Homo sapiens: one gene and its partners. Changing the gene in region 4 together with the main gene of any one other region gives a genetic interaction. Each region holds a gene or a part of one and is shown on either strand. Other genes may lie near its edges. The genes, in order: GAGE1, PCDHA13, GAGE12F and FLT3.

The links.
Region 1: changes in FLT3 (region 4) and GAGE1 together harm fitness less than expected from each alone (positive genetic interaction), as found in Homo sapiens cells (one study listed by BioGRID).
Region 2: changes in FLT3 (region 4) and PCDHA13 together harm fitness less than expected from each alone (positive genetic interaction), as found in Homo sapiens cells (one study listed by BioGRID).
Region 3: changes in FLT3 (region 4) and GAGE12F together harm fitness less than expected from each alone (positive genetic interaction), as found in Homo sapiens cells (one study listed by BioGRID).

The regions. Positions count from the first base shown.
Region 1 is NC_000023.11:49,595,196-49,602,041, reverse strand, and holds the start of GAGE1 (G antigen 1), read right to left. Parts: upstream 3,023-6,846; 5' UTR 2,915-3,022; intron 1,876-2,914; 5' UTR 1,868-1,875; coding exon 1,784-1,867; intron 1,319-1,783; coding exon 1,198-1,318; intron 1-1,197. Other genes in the region: GAGE2A (G antigen 2A/2B), read right to left, coding at 5,309-5,331. UniProt on the Homo sapiens protein: Antigen, recognized on melanoma by autologous cytolytic T-lymphocytes.
Region 2 is NC_000005.10:140,877,111-140,885,131, reverse strand, and holds the start of PCDHA13 (protocadherin alpha-13 isoform 1 precursor), read right to left. Parts: upstream 3,009-8,021; 5' UTR 2,864-3,008; coding exon 470-2,863; coding exon of another isoform or gene 440-469; exon of another isoform or gene 252-439; intron 1-251. Other genes in the region: PCDHA12 (protocadherin alpha-12 isoform 1 precursor), read right to left, coding at 7,293-8,021. UniProt on the Homo sapiens protein: Potential calcium-dependent cell-adhesion protein. May be involved in the establishment and maintenance of specific neuronal connections in the brain.
Region 3 is NC_000023.11:49,556,328-49,563,846, reverse strand, and holds the start of GAGE12F (G antigen 12F), read right to left. Parts: upstream 3,006-7,519; 5' UTR 2,898-3,005; intron 1,859-2,897; 5' UTR 1,851-1,858; coding exon 1,767-1,850; intron 1,302-1,766; coding exon 1,181-1,301; intron 1-1,180. Other genes in the region: GAGE12E (G antigen 12B/C/D/E), read right to left, coding at 5,292-5,314.
Region 4 is NC_000013.11:28,027,562-28,034,583, reverse strand, and holds part of FLT3 (receptor-type tyrosine-protein kinase FLT3 precursor), read left to right. Parts: intron 1-176; coding exon 177-283; intron 284-369; coding exon 370-502; intron 503-592; coding exon 593-697; intron 698-6,295; coding exon 6,296-6,406; intron 6,407-7,022. UniProt on the Homo sapiens protein: Tyrosine-protein kinase that acts as a cell-surface receptor for the cytokine FLT3LG and regulates differentiation, proliferation and survival of hematopoietic progenitor cells and of dendritic cells.

The DNA of each region.
Region 1 (6,846 bases), on a different chromosome or scaffold from region 4:
ATTCAGCCCAGCTTTAGACCTTTCTCCTAAATGACAATCTAAGGATAAACCACAGGACATGTATAATGCTTATATTCAGCCCTAGAGTACCAACAGCAGTGTGCGTCAGCTGAGAAATCTGAAGTCTACCACGTGGGTAGGATTTCAGTTACAATTACAATGTCAGTTTCTGAAGGATTGATTAGCTGGATGGATTTGAGGACTATGGAAAATCTTACAGTCACGACACCCATTACCTATTGGGGTAAAGAGAAACTTCACTTTGTTCAAATAAAGTTATATTTAGGTCCGAAGGTCCTAAAGGTAATATTCCATAAATGAACCCCGTGAAGAACAAAGCACCAAATATAACATTGTTTGTGAATCACAGAAAATATACTGTCCCCCGCACTGAGAATAAGGGAGTGGGCGGACAGCAATTAATGGGCATTGTTGTCAGTCAGATTCTAGGAACTTTTAACAGTGCATCCCTGGAATAATCCATGACCTCCGTTACATAAATGCTTCCTTTCAAAACATTTTATCTCGGAGAAATTATTTCCATCTCACGTTAATCTCAGGATAATTCCGTTTTTGCTTTTCTAACCATAAAAGGATTTAATCACCTCCTAAAGGCCGCTGAGAAAAATCACTAAACCAGCTACCTGTATGGCAGTATCCTCATTTATCCAGCTTTTATCAAACGTACCATATAAAAATATCAATCAAAGGAAACGGGGGCCAACATTCAGCGACTCGGTTTTTGGAGCTGCTCCTGCTCCTCTGAACTGGGTCTATTCTTGGGTCAGTACTAAGCTACCTTACAGTAAAGCCTTTTGAGTTTTAAGCATTTTCAGCAAAATCACTTCCTTCTTTACAGCAACATACATGATAGGAAGACACAAACCTTGGAACACAGTACAAATGTTGTATTCACCAGTCAAGGGTTCTTGGATAACACACAATCCTGGCACCTCCATTCTCTCATTCATAAAGTCGAGATCTTTTACCATAGTGAGGGATTTGCCTAAGCTAAGCTGCGAACTACATAGCCTCCTCGCTTTTCCAGTCAATTTCAGGCATTCTTTCCATTGTTTTCTTTCCTCCTCTTCCTCCTATGTGACAATGCCTAACACACACACACACACGTGCACACACACACACACGAACACACACACACGCACACACCAGCAGACGTTCTTCTTCCCTTTCCCTCACCTTGACCTGCAGATGCTCCCTCATCCTCTCCCTCCTGAGCAGCTGCAGGATCCTGACGTTGAGTTGCTGGTTCCCCTTCTTCAGGTGTTGCTGGTTCCACTTCATCACTGAACTGCTCGGGCTGGGGAATACGTGTGGGTGTGCAAATAAAAAATAAGTTTCGTTATTGATACAAAATTTTACATATATACACAGAATACATAGCTATTTCTGGTCCTAACTAAGCCTAAAGACATTTCTCCAACTCTATGCTCTATGCCCAATAAGGTTACTCCACCCACAGGGAGGTTACTGTGAGAAAAGTGACGCACGAGGACTTTGGGGGCTATTATACTCTGTGTTGGAATACATGTGTACAATCTGTCATTAACAAACAAAGCCGGAGAAAGAAGTCATGGGCAAAAGCTGAAGAACACGAGAGGAAAAAAAAAATCCTCCAGAATCAATGTTTCCTTCATGAGATGCCATCCTCATTTTTTATGAGCAGGAAAGACCTTTATCAGCATTTCCACACTAATGCAACGACGCTATCACAAAAATTAATTTCTACTAATAGAAAACATCGAATTAACGTTTAAGCACTCACCCGCATAGGCCCAATCATTTCAGGAGGCTGTACATAGCGCCTTGGTCTAGGCCAATAATAGGTCGATCTTCCTCGCCAACTCATATTTCACACTGAAAACAGACAACCGTGATTGGGAACGTGCGCTCCAGAGGGCTGCTATATTCGATCACTTCCATGGATAAATGTTAACTTGCCGTTTTACTTTTGAAAATACTCTCAAAATAAGTCCCAGAGTTAAGCATACGTGTGTACGCTGTCTGAGTGCCTACAAAGCCACTTCTGCTGGCCAGGCTGGCAGAGCAATCATCTTAAGGCGTGTGGCAAAAGGCAGAGGACATTTTTTTCTAAATTTCTTTTGGACACGCGGTCTCGCTGTGTTGCTCAGGCTGGAGTGCAGCGGCGTGATCACAGCTCACTGCAGCCTCGACCTCCCGCTCAAGGGATCCTCCCACCTCAGTGTCCCCAGTAACTGGGAATACGTAGGCGAGCGCCACTGCGCCCCGCAGACAGAGGTCATTTCTGATGAGGTTTAGTTTCACAAGTGCACTCCCCACGAAAACCCTAGTGAATCACAATTCTCGTGATTGCTGCTTTGGGCACACTCCCACTTCCTAGAGCCATTCACCCCCCCTCACAACAAGTTTGGTTGGACCGCACTGCCTCGCCCACTCCTTCCCACTGTTTTCGGACCTTCCATGGCGGAGGTGAGACCTTGCAGTGCTTCTCACTCGGGCGCTCCGCACTCCACACCGCTGAGGGGGCGCTCGCCAGGCCGCAGCCTTCCCAGGTGCCAGGCCCCTTCTTCACCGCCCGCCTCGCCCCCGCCGGGGGCCCCATTCAGGGAATCTGCCCTGTGTCGTCGGGGATCCCGGCACCTCGGGACTTCCATCCCCCCAACAGCACTCACCCCGTCTTCACCTGAGCCCCTGACCGCCTCCCCTCCACGGCCCACCTTCCTCCCCGTCCAGGCCCCTTCACGACCACGAAGCCGCCGGTGGCCTCGCAGCCTGTGAAGGGAAGGAGGACGACCTCGTGGCCCTTCTCCCTCGGAGGCCACAGACCAGGAAGCGGGACCCGCCTGACCCACCCGAGGCCCTCTCCACCCTCACTCACACTTCAGCCCCCGGGATGACTGGCCTGCACACCTACCAGATGAATCTCAGTAGAGGAAAAAGAGTCCGGACGGCAGGAACCACACAGCACTGCCTCACAGCTCCCTGGCGTTCTTCACGTGGGCGAAGGGGCCGGGCAGAAGACGCCCAGTGAACATGCGCACTGAGGCGGGAGCCCAGGGAGCATGCGCGGCTGTGGGCTGGGGAGGGCTGCCGTTCCCAGCGCCACGCCCCAAACCCTCCATGCCCATCCTCATTGAGGATAAGGGAATCCCACCTCCCTCTGCTGTTTCCTATGCCTCTGGGACTCAAGTAGTGCTCCCCTCAAAACTCACCCCATCTTCAACTGAACCCCACCCCCAACCCAGGGCCCTCTCTTGCCCCGGACCCACCATGGGGACAAGGACCACTGTGACTGGCTGGGAAGACAGGTAAACCACCTGCGAAAACAGAAATAGCAACCTATCCCAAAAGGAAATTGTTCAATGTGAACAAGTCAGAGAAAGAGACTGAAAGAAAAATGAATAGAATCGCTAGGACCCGTAAGAAAATGCTAAAACGATATCTATCATTTGTAGCATCAGAATCGCAGAGGGTGAAGTGACAGTATTAGGGAAACAGGACAGCCAGAGTGACACCACGTGAAAATATACTCCGTCTTGAAAGCAGCAAGATACATAGTCCTACCAGTCACAACCCATGGTCCTAAGATGTTTGGAGTTGAGAAAACAGATGAAAGGTACCTCCAAGGACATGCTCCCACAGCAGCGGAAAGTGCACGGTTCCCAACACCCATTAACAATATATGCTTTCAACAGAATTATGCTTTCATGGACTTACACACTGGTAAGTCAAGGACAGTTTTCTTTAAATCAATAGAATGATAAAAGTCATCATGCTCTTAGCCCACCCGCACAAAGGCACAGATTAACTTTAGTCTTTATATAGATAAGACCCCTATATAAGAAAAACCAGACCAGGCCAAGGCTCACGCCTGTAATCCTAGTATTTTGGGAGGCTGAGCTGGCCAGATCACCTGAGCTCAGGACTTCGAGACCAGCCTAAGCAACATCAGAAAATCTCATCACTACAAAAAACAAACAAAAAACCATCGAAAAATTAGCTGGGCATGGTGGCATGTACCTATACTCACAGCTCCTCAGGAGGCTGAGGTGGGAGGCGCGCTTGAGCCCAGGAGGTCAAGGCTGCAGCGAGCTCTGATAACACCACCGCACTCCAGCCTCGGTGACAGAGTGAGACGCTGTCTCAAGTTTTAATAATCGAACCTAAAAACGTACAAATTTATCAATCGAATTCACTATATTAACACATGAATGGGAAAAAACGCTGTGGTAATCGAAATAGATGCACTGTTTGATGAAAATCAACATATATTCAAATGAATACTCTCAGCAAATTTGGAACAGAATGCAATGACTCACTCTGATAAAGTCCGTCTACAAAAAAAGGAGAGTGAATAGGATGGTGAAATGTTGAAATTTTTCGGTTTCTCATCAGGGATAAGACAAGGATGTCCACTGTCACCATTGTAACGGGTGGGTCTGCGCAATGCCATAAAATCAGAAAAGGAAATAAAACTCTTTACAATGGCAACGACGGGCCCGCCACGGTGGCCCACGCCAGTAATCCCAGCACTGTGGGAGGTGAGGTGGGTGCATCACTTGCACTCAAAAGTTCAACAACAGCCCGGGAAACATGGCAAAACCCCGTCTCTACAAAAAAATACAAAAGGGAAAAGAAAAAAATATGGCGGAAACAAAACTGCTCTTATTCCAGGATGATATGTTTCTGTATATTGAAGACTGAAAACGACCTAGAAGTAAACTTTAGAATTCACAAGCATATTTCACAAGGCCGCTGGATAGAAAACCAATATGTAAGAATTATGTCTCCACCGGGCGCGGAGGCTCATGCCTGTAATCCCAGCACTTTGGGAGGCCAAGGCAGGTGAATCACGAGGTCAGGAGTTCAAGAGCACCCCGGCCAAGATGGCGAAAGCCCATCTCTAGTAAAAACACAAAACTTAGCCAGGCGTGCTGGTGGGTGCCTATAATCCCAGCTACTCGGGAGGCTGAGGCAGACAATTGCTTGAATCCGGGAGGCGGGGTTGCAGTGAGCAGAGATCGCGCCACTGCACTCCAGCCTGGGCGACAGAGCAAGACTCCGTCTCAAAAGAGGACAAAGAAAGAAAGAAAAAAAAAAGAACGATGTCTCTACATACCAGCTCAGAGAGTTACAATACACGATTTCAAAGAATGATACATATTTCACAGCATCAAAAAGCTAGAAATAAACTTCACAAAAGATGCGCAAGACTTCTTTGCAGAAGGCTGTAAAGCTTTATTGGGAGAATTTTAATGAACAAATTTCCAACATAGGAGCAGCCTGCATCATTTCAACGTGTCTTCTTTTAACACTGTGATTGCTTTTCACCTGTAACAGAAACACAACGATTGGGAACATGACTTAGCAACAGATTATTCAGATGACCCTAAAGGCATACAAAGCACACTACAGTTTGGGTTTTATTAAATGGACTAAAAACAGAACCCTATGGGTGATCCCGTGTCTTACACGCAATTGAACCTCTGCATAAACTTTGAGCGTAGACCTGCAGAATTTAAAAGGAATTTCCTCCCTGAACATCAAGTGCTTCCTTTCAAGTCACAAGCACTTACAATTAACAGTCAGCAATTTGGAAAACACATGTGTAAAGCATACTTCAGTTGATTACTCAGGAAGTACTAGAGTCATGGTCTTTCAACTTCAAATCTTATCAATTCATGTCTCTAAAGGTGAAACTTACATGTAACATTTGATATGATTAGAGATGATTATATCGTATGTGTGTCTACAGTCTTATTAGAAATAGTGGCTCATGAAGACTGACAGTGGGGCAGGGAGCATGCATAGCACAGGCATCTTACTCACACCCATGCTGAGCATCACTGACCTACATGCCACAGATGATACGAACTAAACGGTCTCTCGCCATTTGATATTTATTTCAGTCACTCAAGGTTTCCGTGGGGAAAGATTTAAGAAGCAATTGTACCATTTGACCCAGCCATCCCATTACTGGGTATATACCCAAAGGACTATAAATCATGCTGCTATAAAGACACATGCACACGTATGTTTATTGCGGCATTATTCACGATAGCAAAGACTTGGAACCAACCCAAATGTCCAACAACGATAGACTGGATTAAGAAAATGTGGCACATATACACCATGGAATACTATGCAGCCCTAAAAAATGATGAGTTCATGTCCTTTGTAGGGACATGGATGAAACTGGAAATCATCATTCTCAGTAAACTATTGCAAGAACAAAAAACCAAACACCGCATATTCTCACTCATAGGTGGGAACTGAACAATGAGATCACATGGACAGAGGAAGGGGAATATCACACCCTGGGGACTGTTGTCGGGTGGGGGGAGGGGGGAGGGATAGCACTGGGAGATGTACCTAATGCTAGATGATAAGATAGTGGGTGCAGCGCACCAGCATGGCACATGTATACATATGTAACTAACCTGCACAACGTGCACATGTACCCTAAAACTTAAAGTATAATGATAAATAAATAAATAAATAAATAAATAAATAAATAAAAGAAAAAAAAAGAAGCAATTGTTCATTAAAAGCCAGAGAAACCCTGCCTGGGCAACACAGTGAGACCTCATCTCTACAAAAATGAAAACAAAAAAATGTAGTCAGGCACGGTGGCTTGTGCATGTAGTTCCAGCCACTCGGGAGGCTGAGGTGGGAGGACGGCTTTAGCCTGGGAGCCAGAAGTTGCAGTGAGCTGAAATTGCATCACTGCACTCCAGCCTGGGTGACACACTGAGACTCTGTCGCAAACAAACAAACAAACCAAGAAGAGGGAGAATTCACAATTTCACAAGATCTTACACTACGTATTCAGCTCTCCACACGGAA
Region 2 (8,021 bases), on a different chromosome or scaffold from region 4:
GAAAGAAAGAAAAGTGCACTTAAAAAAAGCATTTATGTGAAAAGTTATGGGGCTCTTTAAAATAATATCTTGTGGGTATATGTATACATTAAACTAAAAATTTTTTAAATTTAAGATTACGATTAGCCTCATTAAAACAAACATTTTCTAAATGTTTAAGTTCTCACAACGTGAGGAATTTTTTGTAAATGCTCAATTGCAAGATAAATACTTAGAACTATTAAGAATACAACAGAAACAAAATATTCTTGTTTTGCACATTTCATTATGGTTTGTGAGTTAAGATTTCACTCTGAAGGATAATCCAACACATAATGTCCACAGCAGAGTTGTTAAATTCGATAACAACTAGCAAAATTAAAATTAAAGTAAAGAATAATTTGAAATTGGCAGGAAAGATGTCTTAAACAAACAACTGCAAGGAAGGCTAAAGTGTTTACTAAGACAATTTTTTAAAATATAAGCTTACCTCTTTCAAGCATTCTGAGTCCTCCTCCCTCTGGCCTGTTCCCTCTGCAGAACCCAGACAAGGAGGAAGGCTGGGACTGAAGGCCATGAGGTCCGTCTTATGCGGGCCCTCCCCAGAGCACACCCTCGGCCGCCTCTGCTGCGAGTACGACCAACTCCCTGCCGCGCTGGAGCACACTAGAGTGGGCTTGCCCGGCGCGCACGCGCCCTCGGTGGGCGGTGCCGAGCACCGCAGCGCAGTATACAGCAGCAACGTGAGCACCAACAGGCTGGACACCGCGCAGATGGCAATGATCAAGTAAACATTGACATCCACCAGCGCCGCTTCTGGACCCACAGCGCCTGCCGACGCCCTCGACGAAGCCTGTGGCGCTTGGCCGCTCTCCACCAGCGACAACAGCACCGTTGCCGTGGCCGTCAGCGCGGGCTCACCGTGGTCCTTCACCAGCACCAGAAGGCGGTGGTGCGGCGCGTCCACCTCGTCCAGAGGGCGCGTCGTGCTGATCTCGCCAGTGTACAGCCCCACGCGGAACGGGATGCGCGCGCCGACCGCCGCCAGCTGCAATTCATACGAAAGCCACGCATTGTAGCCCGAATCGGCGTCCACCGCGCGCACCTTCGCCACCACGTGGCCTGCACCCACCGACCGCGGCATCAGCTCGCTCACTGTGCCTCCCGCGCTGCCAGCCCCGGGCGTCAGCAGCGCCGGAGCGTTGTCGTTCTCGTCCAGCACGAACACCTGCAGCGTCACGTTGCTGCCCAGAGGCGGCACGCCAGAGTCGCGCGCGCTCACCTGGAACTGCAACAGCTCCAGCTCCTCGTGGTCCAACGGCTGCAGCGCGTACACCTTGCCGCTCTCCGCGTGCACCGACACGTAGCTCGACAGCGCACGCTCGCCCACCCGCCGCTCCACCAGCGAGTAGGAGACCAGCGCGTTCTCCTGTGCGTCCGCGTCCTGAGCAGACACCGTGAAGATGTGGCAGCCCGGCGGATTGTTTTCCTTCACGAACACCGTGTACTCGGGCTGCGCGAACGCCGGCGCGTTGTCGTTCACGTCGGCCACCCCCACCGACACGCTGGCCGTGGCCCACAGCGAAGGCGAGCCCCCGTCCCGCGCGGTCACCACCAGTTCATAGGCTGATACGCTCTCGCGGTCCAGGGCGCTGTCCAGCACTAATGAGTAGTAGTTCTTGTAGGTGGACACCAGCTTGAAGGGGACATGCGGCGTCAAGGTGCAGGTGACCTGTCCATTTGAGCCAGAGTCACGATCGGACACACTGATTAGGGCAATAATGGCGCTAGGCTGAGTGTCTTCTCTGATGGGGAGTGACAAAGAAGTGATGGTAACCTCTGGGGCGTTATCATTTACATCTAGTACTTCCACCAAAAGGGTACAATGACCCGCCATTGGAATATTTCCTTTGTCAACTGCCTCCACGGATATTTCATATAATTTCTTTTCTTCGAAATCTAGTTTGCCTTTTGTCCTAATTTCTCCATTGTTCGGATTTATGGTAAATGCATATACCACTGCAGGCCATACAGGCCTTCTAAATGAGTAAACTATATCTCCATTTGTACCATCATCAGGATCTGTGGCATTTAGCTTGATCACTAATGTTCCATTGAAGGCGTTCTCTAACACCGTCACTTTATAAACGGATTGGTAAAATTCCGGGGCGTTGTCATTCACGTCCAGAATCGTGATGAGCAGCTGAACTGTGCCAGTCAGCTCGGGTTTACCTCCATCACTGGCTGTCAGTAATAAACTATGTTCCTGAATTTCCTCTCTGTCCAGTGTTTTCCTCAGTACAAGTGATAATGAAGACATTTGCTCAAGACTGTTTTGTGCGTCCAAAGTGAAATAATCGTTGGGATCCAGTCGGTAGGTCAATGCCGAGTTTACTCCAATATCTGCATCGGATGCGCCATCTAGTGGAAATCGAGTTTCCGGAGGTCTAGATTCTGCAATGATTATTCGTTTCTTGCTTTCAGGGAATATGGGCGGGTTGTCGTTAATGTCCCTCACCTTCACCTCCACATGGAAAACCTGCAGAGGCCTGTCCACGATCACCTCCAGGTGGATGCTGCACTCCGCGCTCCGCCCACACAGCTCCTCGCGGTCGATCCGAGAATTCACAAACAAAATGCCATTCTGCAGATTTACCTCCAGAAGGTCCCCGTGTCTTTTGGACGCCACCCGGAACAGGCGCGGCACCAGCTCCGCCAGCTCCAGCCCCAGGTCCTGAGCGATGCGGCCCACGAAGGTGCCGTGTTTTGCTTCCTCGGGGACGGAGTAGTGGAGCTGGCCACTACCCGTCTCCCAGGCTGCGAGGATCAGAAGCCAGAGCAGTAGTTGCCGCGGTCTTGGGCCTCCTTGCCAGGAAGACAGCATGGTACACTCCAAAAACCTCAGAGCTATCTGCAATATATACAACGCCTTACCTCAAACTGTCTCTCAAGGCCCAATTTTTATGGCTTCCTAGTGCGGAAGGATTCGCAAGAGGTATTCCGCTTTCTGCTATATTTTCTGCAGGAAGAAAGAAACGGCGGCTTTCTTCGCGGAAACGTTCTCAGTGAAGAGCGACACCATGCGCATGAACGTGTAAGTGTAAGTATGACTCAGTCTTCATATTTTCCATTGATGTAGTATTTTTTTGCCCCTTGCATTTCCTGACATTTTCACTGCAAATATGTAATTGAAGATTAAATGTTTACCTTCCCAGAAACAGCAAATCACTGCATTCTGCTCAACATTTTATATTAGCTGACAATTGGTTGATGAGTTTCATTTTGCCACAAATTTATTTTTCCATGTGTAAGAATTCCATGCAGAACTTTAAGACAAAGAATATTCGACACTCGTTTTGGGACAATTGATCGGTAGTTCTGCATAGTCATGTAGGTTTTTGTGGTACTGTCCTCTTCCTGTAATATTTTTCAAGACCTCCTCACACAACAGCCATTGACTCCAAAAGGAAACATAACAATCACATAAGAATAAAATCGGTGAAGGTGAAAAATATTGGTAACTGATATATCAGATTTTGAATAAGCACATCATATTAATAAATTTCCCTCAATGTGACTTGAGATGTAGATAAGATATTTATATTCAAAAGAAAGTGTTCAGTCAATATGTGTGGGATTTTGTATGTGAGTGTGTGTATGTGCATAAACACAATAATTTAGCCACAACAATGCTCTAAGGTTTTGGATTCTGTTTTTATAAAATATGCCTGGAACTAATATCCTATTGATTTAATAGAATTTAACTTACCGCCGCCGGCTGCAATTCATACGAAAGCCACGCATTGTAGCCCGAATCGGCGTCCTGGTTAAATAGAATTTAACCAGGAGGTTAAAGTTTCCATTTTCTCTCTCCATCTTACTTCATCATCACTGAGTAAAACCTTGCCGTCATTTAAATTGACTTTAATTTTCCAAGAAACAACAGCTAGACAAAGATGTTAACATATCTTTAGCAAGGAAAAGAGGAAGAGGATCTTACTTTTATCTATTGTTATAACTATCTCTACCAAGCCACAAAATCCCAGGCCAAATGGTGTAATGAAAAATATATCATAGCTCCAATAATTATCTGGCCTGTTCTGTGCACAACTCTATAGGAAATGACTGTTGGGTTTATTTCCATAGCTCTGCTCTCCTCTGAAAATTTAGGCAGAGTATTTGGTATTCTCTTACCCTCATCATCCTCTCCTGCTCCATTACTTTTACTAACATAGTATTTCTCTTCTAATTCTTTCTATCTGGCCCTACATTTCTTTATTTACCTCTTCACATAATTAGACTACATAGTCAACCATTTAAAATATGCCCTTCCAGACACTCTAGAGTCATTCACCTATTTATATTACTCCTCTAACATTCTTTTTAGCCTCCAACACGCAGTTACACTGACAATCCATTTTCTCTATGCTTCCTATTAAGCTGCTCAACATTGTCACTTAACCATGACTATTCTCTTCAAATTTACTCTCACCTTTACCTCAGTTGGGCTCTCAAGTGAATTGATAATTAACTCCTCCCTCTTGCTTACAGAGATTCTTCCATATTCTCTTTCCTCTCTTCTCAAATTCTCAACCTCATTTCCATCAGTTCACTTTCAGATGATTCACACATTGAGAGATGTGACCAAACAGAAATTCAATTGCTCTCTTCTTGTGTCATTTTTCCTTATATTATCTGTTTTCATTTTCTACTAGTTGTAAGGAAAAACTGTTCCCGCTTTTAAGGTCAACCATATGCTCTTAAAAATTATTTTCTATTCTCTCATGGTTTTCATCTAAATTCACCTGCTGCCTGTCTTATTTTTAGTATCTTATTTTTTACTTGTTTCTTTCACTCACACTATGAAGATAGTCAAACTTCTTTAACTAAAATATGTATACATACACACACGCACATACACTAATTTAAATGTTCTACTTCTGGTGGAAAACCTCTTCTGTTTATCTTTTTCCCTTCATGTTTAACTTCTAACATATACTTGATATATTGCACTTTGAGCTTTATTTCAGCTTCCTGTTGTCTATCCTTCTATGATTTTAAGCCTACTATAATAGGTTGAATTGTGGTCCCCAAAAAGTTATGCCCACATCTTAATCCCTGGAACTTGTGGATTTTACTTTATATGGTGAATAATATGATTAAGTTAAGGATCTTGAAAGGAGTTTATCCTGGATTATCCAGATGGGCCCTAAATACAATCACATGTACCTTTGTAAAACCAACACATAGAGAGAGACATGGAGAGGAGGAGGCAATGTGACCATGAAAGCTGAGAAGGCTGAGATGGGAGTGGTACAGCCACAAGCCAGGGAACACCAACAGCCAATAGAAACTGGAAGAAACAAAAACCAGATTCTTCCCTGGGGCCTCCAAAGAGAGTATAGCCTTGACAACACCTTGATTTTGGACTTCTGGTCTCCAATACTGAGAAATAATAAACTTTTGCTGTTTTACAGCACCCAGTTTGTGTTCGTTTGTTATAGCAGCCACAGGAAGCGACACACTTACCCACCTAAGTACCTGGACACATTGTTTTTCACTTTTCAATGTCTGTCTTGGCAATTTTATTCTTTCATGGATTATTTTTTTCTCTAAAGGAGTTGTTCCCAAAATCTATATCAATAATCTCTTCTGAGATCCAGACCCATATTTCCAATCACAACGGTATTCTCTTAGGACTTCAAAGTAACATTTTCTTAAATGTTCATCTCCATTCCCTACCTGCTCAAATACACACAAACTGTTTCTCCAACCTTGTTCTGCAGGTTGGTTAATGGCAATGTCATCTTCTCAGCTGAACAAACTAAAAAAGTGAGAGTCAACTTCTACTTTTGTTTTTCTCTTATCATTTGTATTGAGTCTGTCATTATCTGGCTGCTTCTACTTTGCCAGTGCCTCTTGTATATGTCTTTTTCAATTCATTTCTACTGCCATAATTTAAGTCTCCATTACTTGATACCTAATTTATTAAAAAAGAAATAGCTTTCCTGCCTTCACAATCTCCCCTGCTCTAATCCTTCAATTACACCATATACTGTGCAGTTGTTCCTACTTATCTCTCTTAACACTTTCTTGGTAAAATGTTGTCTATCTTTCAAGACACTCTTCAATAAAACATTATCTGATTTCTAGGGCATACTCTCATTTCTAAGATAGAGGGGAATGTCCAGGTAATACATTTCAATACCATATATTTATTTAAAATTATTGATTGAAGCTGGGAGTGGTGGAGCCTGCCTGTAGTCTCAGCTACTTGAAAGGCTGAAATGGAGGATCAGTTGAACCCAGAAGTTCTAGTCCAGCCTGTGCAACATAGCAAGACCCCCATATGTTTTTAAAAAGTGATTGAACATATACTATATTCCAGATCCTAAACTAAAGATATGTAAGAAAGTAGATATAAGGCTGGAAATTTTAATGCCTTTACTACCAGGCTGGGGTATGTAAGACTTTATTCCCTGGTTAAAGAGAAGCCTCTGGATATTTTTGTAGAAATAGAAAGTTAAAATATGTAAAATGCACATTAGAAGATTCACTTGGTAATAGGCACAGGGCAGTGGTATACTATGATAAGTTTGGGATCATCTGAAACTGGTTTGAGCCACAGTTGGTTACCAACTGTACTGTATCGTACAGATGGTTAAATATTTTTAAATTGAGAAATGATTTTATTATATTTCATGTAAATAAGAATAGTACAGTATCTATTCCTACTTGAAATAAAGAAGATATTTTGTGAGCAATGAAGAAAATCATTCATCATATGTCAGACATATCATTTATATTATTGTGATAATACCTGGAATATAATGTGAAAATGTCTAGATTGTACTGAAATTAGAATAGTGATCAAGAAGGCTATTTTAAAAGCCTAAGCACGTGAGGAAGAGTTAAAGAATCCATTAATGGGATCTAGGAACTCTTTGTACCATTCTTGCAACTTACCTGTAATCTTGAAATTATGAACAAATTAAATTTTTAAGTTATCAAACATCTGGCCACTTTTTAATCTAATATACTGTTTTTTTCAAGGTTCATCAGTCATATAAAATATTATAGAAAAAGAAAAATATTAAGTGTGGTGCTCCATGGCCTCCATTGTACCTACATATTTCCTTCATTAATGTTAGACAAATACATAAAAGTTCAAAATGAGTAAGAATGACCAAGAAAGATGAGACATTCGATAGTTTAAAGGATAGAATCATAAAGAAAAATGAGAGAATGTAGTTATAACCTAAACGGAAGTTCTTCAAGGAAACAAATATATCTAAATAATATTAATAACTTACTTCACTGGGAGGATTTAAACAATCTTCTCGAGACAGCTGAAGGCTTGGGCTGAAGGCCATGAGGTCCGTCTTGGGCGGGCTCTCTGCAGAGCACACCCTCTGCCTCCTCTGCTGCGAGTAAGACCAACTCCCCACGGCGCTGGAGCACACCAGCGTGGGCTTGCCCGGCGCGCACCGGCTCACGGTGGGCGGCGCTGAGCAACGCAGCGCAGTGTACAGCAGCAGCGTGAGCACCAGCAGGCTGGACACCGCACAGATGGCGATGATGAGGTACACGTTAATATCCACCAGAGCCGCTTCGGGATCCACAGCGCCCACTGAGGCCCGCGACGACGTCTTTGGGGCCTGGCCGTTCTCCACCAGCGACACCAGCACCGTGGCCGTGGACGTCAGCGCGGGCTCACCGTGGTCCTTCACCAGCACCAGCAGGCGGTGGCGCGGAGCGTCCGCCTCATCCAGGATGCGTGTCGTGCTGATCTCGCCAGTGTACAGCCCCACGTGGAACGGGATGTGCGCGCCGACCGCCGCCGGTTGCAACTCGTAGGACAGCCAAGCGTTATAGCCGGAGTCAGCGTCCACCGCGCGCACTTTCGCCACCACGTGGCCCGCACCCACCGACCGCGGTACCAACTCGCTAACTGCGCCTCCTGCGCTGCCAGCCGGAGTCGCCAGCAGTGCCGGCGCGTTGTCGTTCTCGTCCAGCACGAACACCTGCAGCGTCACGTTGCT
Region 3 (7,519 bases), on a different chromosome or scaffold from region 4:
GACCTTTCTCCTAAATGACAATCTAAGGATAAACCACAGGACATGTATAATGCTTATATTCAGCCCTAGAGTACCAACAGCAGTGTGCGTCAGCTGAGAAATCTGAAGTCTACCACGTGGGTAGGATTTCAGTTACAATTACAATGTCAGTTTCTGAAGGATTGATTAGCTGGATGGATTTGAGGACTATGGAAATCTTACAGTCACGACACCCATTACCTATTGGGGTAAAGAGAAACTTCACTTTGTTCAAATAAAGTTATATTTAGGTCCGAAGGTCCTAAAGGTAATATTCCATAAATGAACCCCGTGAAGAACAAAGCACCAAATATAACATTGTTTGTGAATCACAGAAAATATACTGTCCCCCGCACTGAGAATAAGGGAGTGGGCGGACAGCAATTAATGGGCATTGTTGTCAGTCAGATTCTAGGAACTTTTAACAGTGCATCCCTGGAATAATCCATGACCTCCGTTACATAAATGCTTCCTTTCAAAACATTTTATCTCGGAGAAATTATTTCCATCTCACGTTAATCTCAGGATAATTCCGTTTTTGCTTTTCTAACCATAAAAGGATTTAATCACCTCCTAAAGGCCGCTGAGAAAAATCACTAAACCAGCTACCTGTATGGCAGTATCCTCATTTATCCAGCTTTTATCAAACGTACCATATAAAAATATCAATCAAAGGAAACGGGGGCCAACATTCAGCGACTCGGTTTTTGGAGCTGCTCCTGCTCCTCTGAACTGGGTCTATTCTTGGGTCAGTACTAAGCTACCTTACAGTAAAGCCTTTTGAGTTTTAAGCATTTTCAGCAAAATCACTTCCTTCTTTACAGCAACATACATGATAGGAAGACACAAACCTTGGAACACAGTACAAATGTTGTATTCACCAGTCAAGGGTTCTTGGATAACACACAATCCTGGCACCTCCATTCTCTCATTCATAAAGTCGAGATCTTTTACCATAGTGAGGGATTTGCCTAAGCTAAGCTGCGAACTACATAGCCTCCTCGCTTTTCCAGTCAATTTCAGGCATTCTTTCCATTGTTTTCTTTCCTCCTCTTCCTCCTATGTGACAATGCCTAACACACACACACACACGTGCACACACACACACACGAACACACACACACGCACACACCAGCAGACGTTCTTCTTCCCTTTCCCTCACCTTGACCTGCAGATGCTCCCTCATCCTCTCCCTCCTGAGCAGCTGCAGGATCCTGACGTTGAGTTGCTGGTTCCCCTTCTTCAGGTGTTGCTGGTTCCACTTCATCACTGAACTGCTCGGGCTGGGGAATACGTGTGGGTGTGCAAATAAAAAATAAGTTTCGTTATTGATACAAAATTTTACATATATACACAGAATACATAGCTATTTCTGGTCCTAACTAAGCCTAAAGACATTTCTCCAACTCTATGCTCTATGCCCAATAAGGTTACTCCACCCACAGGGAGGTTACTGTGAGAAAAGTGACGCACGAGGACTTTGGGGGCTATTATACTCTGTGTTGGAATACATGTGTACAATCTGTCATTAACAAACAAAGCCGGAGAAAGAAGTCATGGGCAAAAGCTGAAGAACACGAGAGGAAAAAAAAAATCCTCCAGAATCAATGTTTCCTTCATGAGATGCCATCCTCATTTTTTATGAGCAGGAAAGACCTTTATCAGCATTTCCACACTAATGCAACGACGCTATCACAAAAATTAATTTCTACTAATAGAAAACATCGAATTAACGTTTAAGCACTCACCCGCATAGGCCCAATCATTTCAGGAGGCTGTACATAGCGCCTTGGTCTAGGCCAATAATAGGTCGATCTTCCTCGCCAACTCATATTTCACACTGAAAACAGACAACCGTGATTGGGAACGTGCGCTCCAGAGGGCTGCTATATTCGATCACTTCCATGGATAAATGTTAACTTGCCGTTTTACTTTTGAAAATACTCTCAAAATAAGTCCCAGAGTTAAGCATACGTGTGTACGCTGTCTGAGTGCCTACAAAGCCACTTCTGCTGGCCAGGCTGGCAGAGCAATCATCTTAAGGCGTGTGGCAAAAGGCAGAGGACATTTTTTTCTAAATTTCTTTTGGACACGCGGTCTCGCTGTGTTGCTCAGGCTGGAGTGCAGCGGCGTGATCACAGCTCACTGCAGCCTCGACCTCCCGCTCAAGGGATCCTCCCACCTCAGTGTCCCCAGTAACTGGGAATACGTAGGCGAGCGCCACTGCGCCCCGCAGACAGAGGTCATTTCTGATGAGGTTTAGTTTCACAAGTGCACTCCCCACGAAAACCCTAGTGAATCACAATTCTCGTGATTGCTGCTTTGGGCACACTCCCACTTCCTAGAGCCATTCACCCCCACTCACAACAAGTTTGGTTGGACCGCACTGCCTCGCCCACTCCTTCCCACTGTTTTCGGACCTTCCATGGCGGAGGTGAGACCTTGCAGTGCTTCTCACTCGGGCGCTCCGCACTCCACACCGCTGAGGGGGCGCTCGCCAGGCCGCAGCCTTCCCAGGTGCCAGGCCCCTTCTTCACCGCCCGCCTCGCCCCCGCCGGGGGCCCCATTCAGGGAATCTGCCCTGTGTCGTCGGGGATCCCGGCACCTCGGGACTTCCATCCCCCCAACAGCACTCACCCCGTCTTCACCTGAGCCCCTGACCGCCTCCCCTCCACGGCCCACCTTCCTCCCCGTCCAGGCCCCTTCACGACCACGAAGCCGCCGGTGGCCTCGCAGCCTGTGAAGGGAAGGAGGACGACCTCGTGGCCCTTCTCCCTCGGAGGCCACAGACCAGGAAGCGGGACCCGCCTGACCCACCCGAGGCCCTCTCCACCCTCACTCACACTTCAGCCCCCGGGATGACTGGCCTGCACACCTACCAGATGAATCTCAGTAGAGGAAAAAGAGTCCGGACGGCAGGAACCACACAGCACTGCCTCACAGCTCCCTGGCGTTCTTCACGTGGGCGAAGGGGCCGGGCAGAAGACGCCCAGTGAACATGCGCACTGAGGCGGGAGCCCAGGGAGCATGCGCGGCTGTGGGCTGGGGAGGGCTGCCGTTCCCAGCGCCACGCCCCAAACCCTCCATGCCCATCCTCATTGAGGATAAGGGAATCCCACCTCCCTCTGCTGTTTCCTATGCCTCTGGGACTCAAGTAGTGCTCCCCTCAAAACTCACCCCATCTTCAACTGAACCCCACCCCCAACCCAGGGCCCTCTCTTGCCCCGGACCCACCATGGGGACAAGGACCACTGTGACTGGCTGGGAAGACAGGTAAACCACCTGCGAAAACAGAAATAGCAACCTATCCCAAAAGGAAATTGTTCAATGTGAACAAGTCAGAGAAAGAGACTGAAAGAAAAATGAATAGAATCGCTAGGACCCGTAAGAAAATGCTAAAACGATATCTATCATTTGTAGCATCAGAATCGCAGAGGGTGAAGTGACAGTATTAGGGAAACAGGACAGCCAGAGTGACACCACGTGAAAATATACTCCGTCTTGAAAGCAGCAAGATACATAGTCCTACCAGTCACAACCCATGGTCCTAAGATGTTTGGAGTTGAGAAAACAGATGAAAGGTACCTCCAAGGACATGCTCCCACAGCAGCGGAAAGTGCACGGTTCCCAACACCCATTAACAATATATGCTTTCAACAGAATTATGCTTTCATGGACTTACACACTGGTAAGTCAAGGACAGTTTTCTTTAAATCAATAGAATGATAAAAGTCATCATGCTCTTAGCCCACCCGCACAAAGGCACAGATTAACTTTAGTCTTTATATAGATAAGACCCCTATATAAGAAAAACCAGACCAGGCCAAGGCTCACGCCTGTAATCCTAGTATTTTGGGAGGCTGAGCTGGCCAGATCACCTGAGCTCAGGACTTCGAGACCAGCCTAAGCAACATCAGAAAATCTCATCACTACAAAAAACAAACAAAAAACCATCGAAAAATTAGCTGGGCATGGTGGCATGTACCTATACTCACAGCTCCTCAGGAGGCTGAGGTGGGAGGCGCGCTTGAGCCCAGGAGGTCAAGGCTGCAGCGAGCTCTGATAACACCACCGCACTCCAGCCTCGGTGACAGAGTGAGACGCTGTCTCAAGTTTTAATAATCGAACCTAAAAACGTACAAATTTATCAATCGAATTCACTATATTAACACATGAATGGGAAAAAACGCTGTGGTAATCGAAATAGATGCACTGTTTGATGAAAATCAACATATATTCAAATGAATACTCTCAGCAAATTTGGAACAGAATGCAATGACTCACTCTGATAAAGTCCGTCTACAAAAAAAGGAGAGTGAATAGGATGGTGAAATGTTGAAATTTTTCGGTTTCTCATCAGGGATAAGACAAGGATGTCCACTGTCACCATTGTAACGGGTGGGTCTGCGCAATGCCATAAAATCAGAAAAGGAAATAAAACTCTTTACAATGGCAACGACGGGCCCGCCACGGTGGCCCACGCCAGTAATCCCAGCACTGTGGGAGGTGAGGTGGGTGCATCACTTGCACTCAAAAGTTCAACAACAGCCCGGGAAACATGGCAAAACCCCGTCTCTACAAAAAAATACAAAAGGGAAAAGAAAAAAATATGGCGGAAACAAAACTGCTCTTATTCCAGGATGATATGTTTCTGTATATTGAAGACTGAAAACGACCTAGAAGTAAACTTTAGAATTCACAAGCATATTTCACAAGGCCGCTGGATAGAAAACCAATATGTAAGAATTATGTCTCCACCGGGCGCGGAGGCTCATGCCTGTAATCCCAGCACTTTGGGAGGCCAAGGCAGGTGAATCACGAGGTCAGGAGTTCAAGAGCACCCCGGCCAAGATGGCGAAAGCCCATCTCTAGTAAAAACACAAAACTTAGCCAGGCGTGCTGGTGGGTGCCTATAATCCCAGCTACTCGGGAGGCTGAGGCAGACAATTGCTTGAATCCGGGAGGCGGGGTTGCAGTGAGCAGAGATCGCGCCACTGCACTCCAGCCTGGGCGACAGAGCAAGACTCCGTCTCAAAAGAGGACAAAGAAAGAAAGAAAAAAAAAAGAACGATGTCTCTACATACCAGCTCAGAGAGTTACAATACACGATTTCAAAGAATGATACATATTTCACAGCATCAAAAAGCTAGAAATAAACTTCACAAAAGATGCGCAAGACTTCTTTGCAGAAGGCTGTAAAGCTTTATTGGGAGAATTTTAATGAACAAATTTCCAACATAGGAGCAGCCTGCATCATTTCAACGTGTCTTCTTTTAACACTGTGATTGCTTTTCACCTGTAACAGAAACACAACGATTGGGAACATGACTTAGCAACAGATTATTCAGATGACCCTAAAGGCATACAAAGCACACTACAGTTTGGGTTTTATTAAATGGACTAAAAACAGAACCCTATGGGTGATCCCGTGTCTTACACGCAATTGAACCTCTGCATAAACTTTGAGCGTAGACCTGCAGAATTTAAAAGGAATTTCCTCCCTGAACATCAAGTGCTTCCTTTCAAGTCACAAGCACTTACAATTAACAGTCAGCAATTTGGAAAACACATGTGTAAAGCATACTTCAGTTGATTACTCAGGAAGTACTAGAGTCATGGTCTTTCAACTTCAAATCTTATCAATTCATGTCTCTAAAGGTGAAACTTACATGTAACATTTGATATGATTAGAGATGATTATATCGTATGTGTGTCTACAGTCTTATTAGAAATAGTGGCTCATGAAGACTGACAGTGGGGCAGGGAGCATGCATAGCACAGGCATCTTACTCACACCCATGCTGAGCATCACTGACCTACATGCCACAGATGATACGAACTAAACGGTCTCTCGCCATTTGATATTTATTTCAGTCACTCAAGGTTTCCGTGGGGAAAGTTTTAAGAAGCAATTGTACCATTTGACCCAGCCATCCCATTACTGGGTATATACCCAAAGGACTATAAATCATGCTGCTATAAAGACACATGCACACGTATGTTTATTGCGGCATTATTCACGATAGCAAAGACTTGGAACCAACCCAAATGTCCAACAACGATAGACTGGATTAAGAAAATGTGGCACATATACACCATGGAATACTATGCAGCCCTAAAAAATGATGAGTTCATGTCCTTTGTAGGGACATGGATGAAACTGGAAATCATCATTCTCAGTAAACTATTGCAAGAACAAAAAACCAAACACCGCATATTCTCACTCATAGGTGGGAACTGAACAATGAGATCACATGGACAGAGGAAGGGGAATATCACACCCTGGGGACTGTTGTCGGGTGGGGGGAGGGGGGAGGGATAGCACTGGGAGATGTACCTAATGCTAGATGATGAGATAGTGGGTGCAGCGCACCAGCATGGCACATGTATACATATGTAACTAACCTGCACAACGTGCACATGTACCCTAAAACTTAAAGTATAATGATAAATAAATAAATAAATAAATAAATAAATAAATAAATAAAAGAAAAAAAAAGAAGCAATTGTTCATTAAAAGCCAGAGAAACCCTGCCTGGGCAACACAGTGAGACCTCATCTCTACAAAAATGAAAACAAAAAAATGTAGTCAGGCACGGTGGCTTGTGCATGTAGTTCCAGCCACTCGGGAGGCTGAGGTGGGAGGACGGCTTTAGCCTGGGAGCCAGAAGTTGCAGTGAGCTGAAATTGCATCACTGCACTCCAGCCTGGGTGACACACTGAGACTCTGTCGCAAACAAACAAACAAACCAAGAAGAGGGAGAATTCACAATTTCACAAGATCTTACACTACGTATTCAGCTCTCCACACGGAAAAACTAGGATGAAGCAGAGGGCCCGCTCACTGTCTTACTGACAATGAAATCTCAATTCAGAGATTTTCAGATGACTCGGGCCAGGGTTTCATGATTTGTGATTAACAAACCATGCGAAGCAGATGATCTCTGTGTCCCACGCATTCTATGCAACAGGATCAGAGTATGAAAGAAACGGAATGCAAAATGGTTTTAAAATCTCTGACTTAAACTCACTATTTTCATAAGAACCAAAGATAGGTTTAGAAGGGAAAGGACTCACTCAGAATCTCGCCAAGGCTGTAAGAGCTGGTATTAGAACCCGCATGAGTGCTTCAGCATTTTTCACACCAAGTGATGGGTGTTACAAACGTGTTATGTATTGATTAAAAGCAGACCTTTACAAAAGCATCTGAAAATTGTGAGCTACTGGTTTAAGGATTTACACTCAAAACTTTTAATTCAACATAGCTTTGACTCAGTTTGTTTCCCTACCTGACAGTCTATCAGTCGGGTGCTGGGGCCTGAACTACGTTTCAAATAACCTTTATATAAGAACTCTGTTACTAAAGAGGCAGTATTGTTACCTCTCCGTTATTAAAAATATAATGCTGGGTCGGGCACGGTGGCTCTCGCCTGTAATCCCGGCAATTTCAATGGTCGAGGCAGGTGGATCACCTGAGGTCAGGAGTTCGGGAACAACCTGT
Region 4 (7,022 bases):
CTTTACAGGGACATTGCCTGATTGTCTGTGGGGAGTAGAGTATATGTAGAGTGGTTGTTAGGACTGAAAATGATTATTACTGAAACAGGATGTGAGAGATTATAATGAGTTGTCCACTATTTATAATGTCACACAGGAATTCTGTTTCATCGCTGAGTGACACTCTTTTGTTGCAGGCCCCTTCCCTTTCATCCAAGACAACATCTCATTCTATGCAACAATTGGTGTTTGTCTCCTCTTCATTGTCGTTTTAACCCTGCTAATTTGTCACAAGTACAAAAAGGTAAAAGCAAAGGTAAAAATTCATTATTCTTTCCTCTATCTGCAGAACTGCCTATTCCTAACTGACTCATCATTTCATCTCTGAAGCAATTTAGGTATGAAAGCCAGCTACAGATGGTACAGGTGACCGGCTCCTCAGATAATGAGTACTTCTACGTTGATTTCAGAGAATATGAATATGATCTCAAATGGGAGTTTCCAAGAGAAAATTTAGAGTTTGGTAAGAATGGAATGTGCCAAATGTTTCTGCAGCATTTCTTTTCCATTGGAAAATCTTTAAAATGCACGTACTCACCATTTGTCTTTGCAGGGAAGGTACTAGGATCAGGTGCTTTTGGAAAAGTGATGAACGCAACAGCTTATGGAATTAGCAAAACAGGAGTCTCAATCCAGGTTGCCGTCAAAATGCTGAAAGGTACAGTATAGTGGAAGGACAGCAACAAAGATGCACAAAAATGGGAGGCACAGTTTCCCACCCATGCCTTCTTCTCTTTTCCATCCTTTTAATGGTTACTGTTTGCCATGTTTCAAGGCTAAAAATGGAGTGGATTGGGGTGTCAACCCAGTCATGAATACAAAATTCAAGTCATAAATACAAAACTCCACCTCTTCTTCCACTTCTCTCTTTGTTTATTTTTATTTTCTTTTATTTTTTTGAGACAGGGTCTCACTCTGTCACCTAGGCTGGAGTACAGTAGTGTGATCATGGCTCACTGCAGCCTCCACCCCCTGGGCTCAGGCTCCTCAGCAGCTGGGGCTACAGGCGTGCACCACCACGCTCAGCTAAGTTTTTTATTTTTGGTAGAGACGGGGTTTCACCATGTTGCCTAGGCTGATCTGGGACTCCTGAGCTCAAACTATCTGCCCGCCTCGGCCTCCCAAAGTGTTGGGATTACAGGCGTGAGCCACTGTGCCAGGCCTATTTAGTTTTTATAGGCTTTGATATTTGGGGATACAGTTGCCACAGGCAGAAGTTCTTTCTTACATTTGTGTTGTTTTATTTTTAGAGACAGGATCTTGCTCTGTTACCCAGGCTAGAGTGCTGTGATCATAGCTCACTGCAGCCTCGACCTCCTTGGCTCTAGCAATGCTCTCACCTCAGCCTCACAGGAGTGTGCCAAGACAATTGGCTAATTTTTTTTTTTTTTTGTAGATACGGTGTCTCACCATATTGCCCAGGATGGTTGCAAACTCCTGGCTCAAGTGAGGCTGCCTTGGCCTCCTAAAGTGCTGGGATTACAGGTGTGGGTTGAAACAGACTCTGGGTAGGAGAGAAAACTGGGGCCCTTTGTATCCTCACTTCGTTGCTCCATCCATTCCGATCTGGCGTCCAGCCCCATTGCTGGCCTCACCGTTACCACCGCTGACCCAGCAAAAGCATCTCCAGCTGGCTCTCTTGCTAAGGTCAACAGTGACTTCAAACCAAACCAAGCCTAATGGATATTTTTCAGTCCTCATTACTTGATTGTTCAGCATGAATTGATGCTGTTGATTCTTCTCTCCATCCAGAAGCTTTCTTTCTTTGGGTTTTGTGTCACCATATTCTGGTTTTCCTCCCACCCCTCTGCCCTTCTCAGTCCTTTGTGGGCTCATCTTCTTCCATCCAGCTTTTGTTGTTGTGGCTGATTTTGAAACTCAGTCCTTTGTGGGCTCATCTTCTTCCATCCAGCTTTTGTTGTTGTGGCTGATTTTGAAACACAGCCTTGCTCTGTTGCCCAGGCTGGAGTGCAGTGGTGTGATCTCAGCTCACTGCAACCTCCACTTCCCAGGCTCAAGCCATCCTCCCACTTCAGGCCCCTGAGTAGGGGGGACTACAGGCATGCGCCACCATGCCTGGCTAATTTTTGTATTTTTGGTAGAGATGGGGCTTCGCCATGTTGCCCAGGCTCCATCCAGCTTTTTATGGGGCATCCCTGTGGGCTTGCTCCTGGACCGCCTTGCGTTTTCGCTCCACACACTCAACACAGTCCATCCCCACTACACCCGTGATGTCCTCCCATACACCAAGGGCCCTCATGCTTGCGTCTCCTTTCGGAGCTTCAGGTTCATATGTTAAATGTTTGGATGTCTCAAAGGTCCCTTTAACACAGTGTATGCAAGGTGAATTCCCCTAACCCTGGCCCTGCACCAGCAGTCCTCTCTGTGACTGGTAATGAATGCCAGTGAATAAATAACCACATTCTATATAGTTGGGCACACTAGAAACCCGTGACTTTTCCTTGACACCTTCCTCTTTCTAACACCCTGTGAGCTAATCCTATCAGGTTTCCGATTAGTGTCTCTTGATTCCATCCTCGTCCCTCCATCTCTATGACCACCACTCTAGTTCAAGGCTCTCTCCTGGACAAAAGCTTCCAAAGCAGGTTCCTGTATCCACTCTTGCCTCCCTTTGGCTTCTCCATACTGAGGTCCAAGTGACAGTGGCGAAAGGCTAAGCAGATCAAATGGCTTTCCTACTTCACATTTCCTCCACCACCCGCATGGCTGGGCCACCGCTGCCTCCCCACCTCTTGCTCTCGGCACCCCAGAGCGCTGGCCTTCTTTCAGTTCCCCCAGCACTGTCCTCCCACCCACTGTGGGGCCTTTGCACAAGTGGATCCTTCTGCTTCCCCTTCCCCTTTCATGTAAGTATCTCCCACTGCCCCCTCAGATCTCAGCTTAAACACCACTTCCTCTGTCTCACACCACAGACAATATTGAGGCCCTTGCAATGTGCGACATTAGCTCTCTGCAGGCTTTCCCCCGTAGAATCCATCACCTTTGTCATGACATTTTTTAACATCCAATTGTTGTCCCATCTGTCCAGTAGCCCCTGTGCCTCATGAGGGCAGGGTCTGTGTCTGTGGTGCTGTGCTCTCTCCTTTCTCGACCTTTGCCCACTCTTTCACAACCCTCAGCACTGTTCTCCTCCCCTTCCACCATGAGTCACCTGGCCAGCTCCCATTTTTCTTCAGGACTCAGTTTAGACATTGAATGCTCCTTTCTCCACCCCTCCAAGGCTAAGGTAGCTATCCCTTTTGACCCTACAGTACCCCTGCACTCCTTTGCCACGTTGCATTTTTTCTTCTTTTTTTGAGACGGAGTCTCACTCTGTCGCCCAGGCTGGAGTGCAGTGGCACCATCTCAGCTCACTGTAAGCTCCGCCTCCTGGGTTCACGCCATTCTCCTGCCTCAGCCTCCCTAGCAGCTGGGACTACAGGCACCCACCACCACGCCCGGCTAAATTTTTTTGTATTTTTAGTAGAGACAGAGTTTCACCGTGTTAGCCAGGATGGTCTTGATCTCCTGACCTCGTGATCCGCCTGTCTCAGCCTCCCAAAGTGCTGGGATTACAGGCATGAGCCACCGTGCCCAGCCCAACGTTGCATTTTTTCTTTTTCTTTCTTTTTTCTTTTTTTGAGATAGGGTCTCACTCTGTCACCCAGGCTGGAGTGCAGTGAAGTCATCATAGCTCACGGCAAGCTTCAAGTCCTGGGCTCAAGTGATGGTCTGCAGCCTTTCCAGTAACTGGAACTACATGCAGGCACCACCAAGCCCAGCTAATTTTTATTTTATTTTATTTTATTTATTTATGTATTTTTACTTTATTTTATTTTTAAGTAGAGACAAGCTCTTGCTATTTTGCCCGGGCCTTTCTTGAACTTCTGGGTACCAGCAATTCTCCCGCTTGTCTCAGCCTCCCAAGATGTTGGGATTAGAGGCGCGGGGACCCACGTCTTGCCTGCCGTATTGCATTTATGGCACTGTATTGTCATGGCTTATTTACTTCTCTGCCTTCTCCAGGAGACTCTAAGATCCAGGAAGACAAGGGTTGTGTCTTGTTTTTCCTTCATTCCCCAGTGTCTAGGACATTGGCTCTTACAGAGTAGGCACTCAATAAATACTTGTTGAATGACTGAATGAAAGAGGTAATGGTACATGAAAATGCTTAGAAGAAGCTAAGCATGCTAAAAAATGTAAGATATTATTTTAGCCATGAGGAATAGGACATGAACAAGTAAAGCCCCGAATCCCTGTCCAGCGTGAAGCTGAAGACATGATGTATTAGGGGGTCCCAGTGCCCACAGGAAATCCCACCCCCAAGCTAAAATCTTGGAAACAAGGATACCCCTGAGAGCTTGCCCAAACCAAAATAGAGGATGTCAGCACCGGAGAAGCCACTATAAAGGTTAGGATGCCTTCCTGGACAAAATAATGGAACCTGGCAATCGAACCAAATCTTCACTGAATGTAAAGAAGAGTTACTATATCTGGAAGAAAAAGTCTGTTCACAGAGGGGTGGTGCCTGGAGCCTGGAGAGGGAAGTCCAGAGACCCTGCCCTTGCCCCTGTGGCTGCCCGGGCTGCCCTGACCAACTGCACATGAGCCGCAATGACGGGAGCCCTTGGATTCCATAGTGACTTTCCTCACACTGTGCTTCTAAGTCAGCTTATAAGTACAGTTTGCTGAGCTATCTGGAATTTTCCCTAGAGAGAGAATGCATTGGCCAACCAATATGTTCTAGCCTGCTTGGCAGTTTTATTTCTCAATGTCAATTAATGGGTCTCTTGAGCACCTGATAGTGGGAATTAGTCCTCTTTGACCTTCTCCCATTGGACTTGCTGGCAAATCTAATGTTCTAGACCTGAGGGCCACAGGCTAGAGTCAACCATGCTCACGACACTGTTATCTCTCTCTGACTACAACAGATCCAAGAGTTCAAACAAACAAACAAAAAGGACGTTTCTCCCTTCTGTTAACTTGTACTGAGGAGGAAAAGCATGTGTTATTATTTTGTTTGTTTGTTTTGAGGGCCAACTGTAAGGATTTTTATTTTGGTAGGTAGAGGAAAGTCCTGTTGAAAGGTGCATTACCAGATTCAACATTTATACTATAGTCTTTGTTTTGTTTTGTTTTGTTTTGTTTTTGAGACAGAGTCTCGCTCTGTCACCCAGGCTGGAGTGGTGCAGGGGCTCAATCTCGGCTCACTGCAACCTCTGCCTCCCCAGTTCAAGGGATTCTTTTGCCTCATCCTCCTGAGTAGCTGGAATTACAGGTACGCACCGGCACGCCCGGCTAATTTTTTGTATGTTTAGTAGAGACAGGGTTTCACCATGTTGGCCAGGTTGGTCTTCAACTCCTGACCTTAAGTGATCCACCCGCCTTGGCCTCCCAAAGTGTTGGGATTACAGGTGTGAGCCACTGCGCCCAGCCCTATACTACAGTCTGAATTCTGCCTTAGGCTGGGCATGGTGGCTCATGCCTGTATTCCCAGCACTTTGGGAGGCGGAGTTGGGAGGATTGCTTGAATCTAGGAGTTCAAGACCAGCCTGGGCAACATGGTGAGACCCCATCTCTACAAAAAATATAAAAATTAGCTGGGCATGATGGCCTGTGCTTGTAGTACCAGTAACTTGGAGGGCTGAGGTAGGAGGATCACTTGAGCCCAGGAGGCAGAGGCTACAGTAAGCTGAGATCATGTCACTACACTCCAGCCTGGGTGACAGAGTGAGATACTGTGTCAAAAAAAAAGAAAGAAAGAAAAGGAAAAAAAAAAAAGAAAAAGGAGAAATTCTGTCTTAAAACACAGGATATTGTTTGTTTGTTTATTTATTTATTTATTTTAAGATGGAGTTTCACTCTTGTTGCCCAGGCTGGAGTGCAATGGTGCAGTCTCAGCTAATTGCAACCTCTGCCTCCCACATTCAAGCGATTCTCCTGCCTCATCCTCCCAAGTAGCTGGGATTACAGGTGCCTGCCACCACGCCTGGCTAATTTTTGTATTTTTAGTAGAGACGAGGTTTCACCATATTGGCCAGGCCAGTCTTGAACTTCTGACCTCAAGTGATCCACCCACCTCGGCCTCCCAAAGTGCTGGGATTACAGGCATGACCCACCATGCCTGGCTTCTCTCATAATTTTGAATTTAAATAAATAATGCAGATTGACTCTGAGCTGAGAAAAATTTTATTTAATGACATAAAATTCGTATTTTACTTGAGTTTTACATTTTTAATGCTCCTTTCTTTGACAGAAAAAGCAGACAGCTCTGAAAGAGAGGCACTCATGTCAGAACTCAAGATGATGACCCAGCTGGGAAGCCACGAGAATATTGTGAACCTGCTGGGGGCGTGCACACTGTCAGGTAACCCACTTCCACGAAAATCACCTCATCAAAAAGACTGTAGCTTGATGACAAAGAGGATGTTTGCTCTCTCTCTCTCTCTCTCTCTTTTTAATTCTTTGTCTTTTCTCAGTCACAGTGTGAACTCTCAAACCCAAGTGGAATTAGACACTGAGCACTCTATAAATCAGAGGGGTCAAAATAAAGAATGCCTCATTCATCTGCTTTATCGTGATATATTGCATAATTCTCACCTGCTTAAAAACAACAACAACAACAACATTGCAAGTACATTTGGTGGTGTCTGTGCTTCTCTCCCAGCTTGGAAGCTGGTGCACAGGCGTGGTGAGAGTGGTTACAGAGCCTGGCCACTGCCCCAGTTGGGCTGCCGTCAAATACGGCACAGCCTAGCTAGGATATCAGACTTTACTTTCCCAGAATTCTCTGGGGCATGCCCTCTGATCTTCTCTCTTCTGCCTAGAAATACCCAAATGATGTGCCCAAGGTTCATTCTTTCTGCAGCAGCAGGCCTGGGGCTGGTACTAAAAGAAAGGAAAAAGAGGAAAGTGAATCTGAGAGAGGACTGGGAATATATTTCTCCCTCCTCAAGCAAACAGCAAATCAGCATATAGTTACC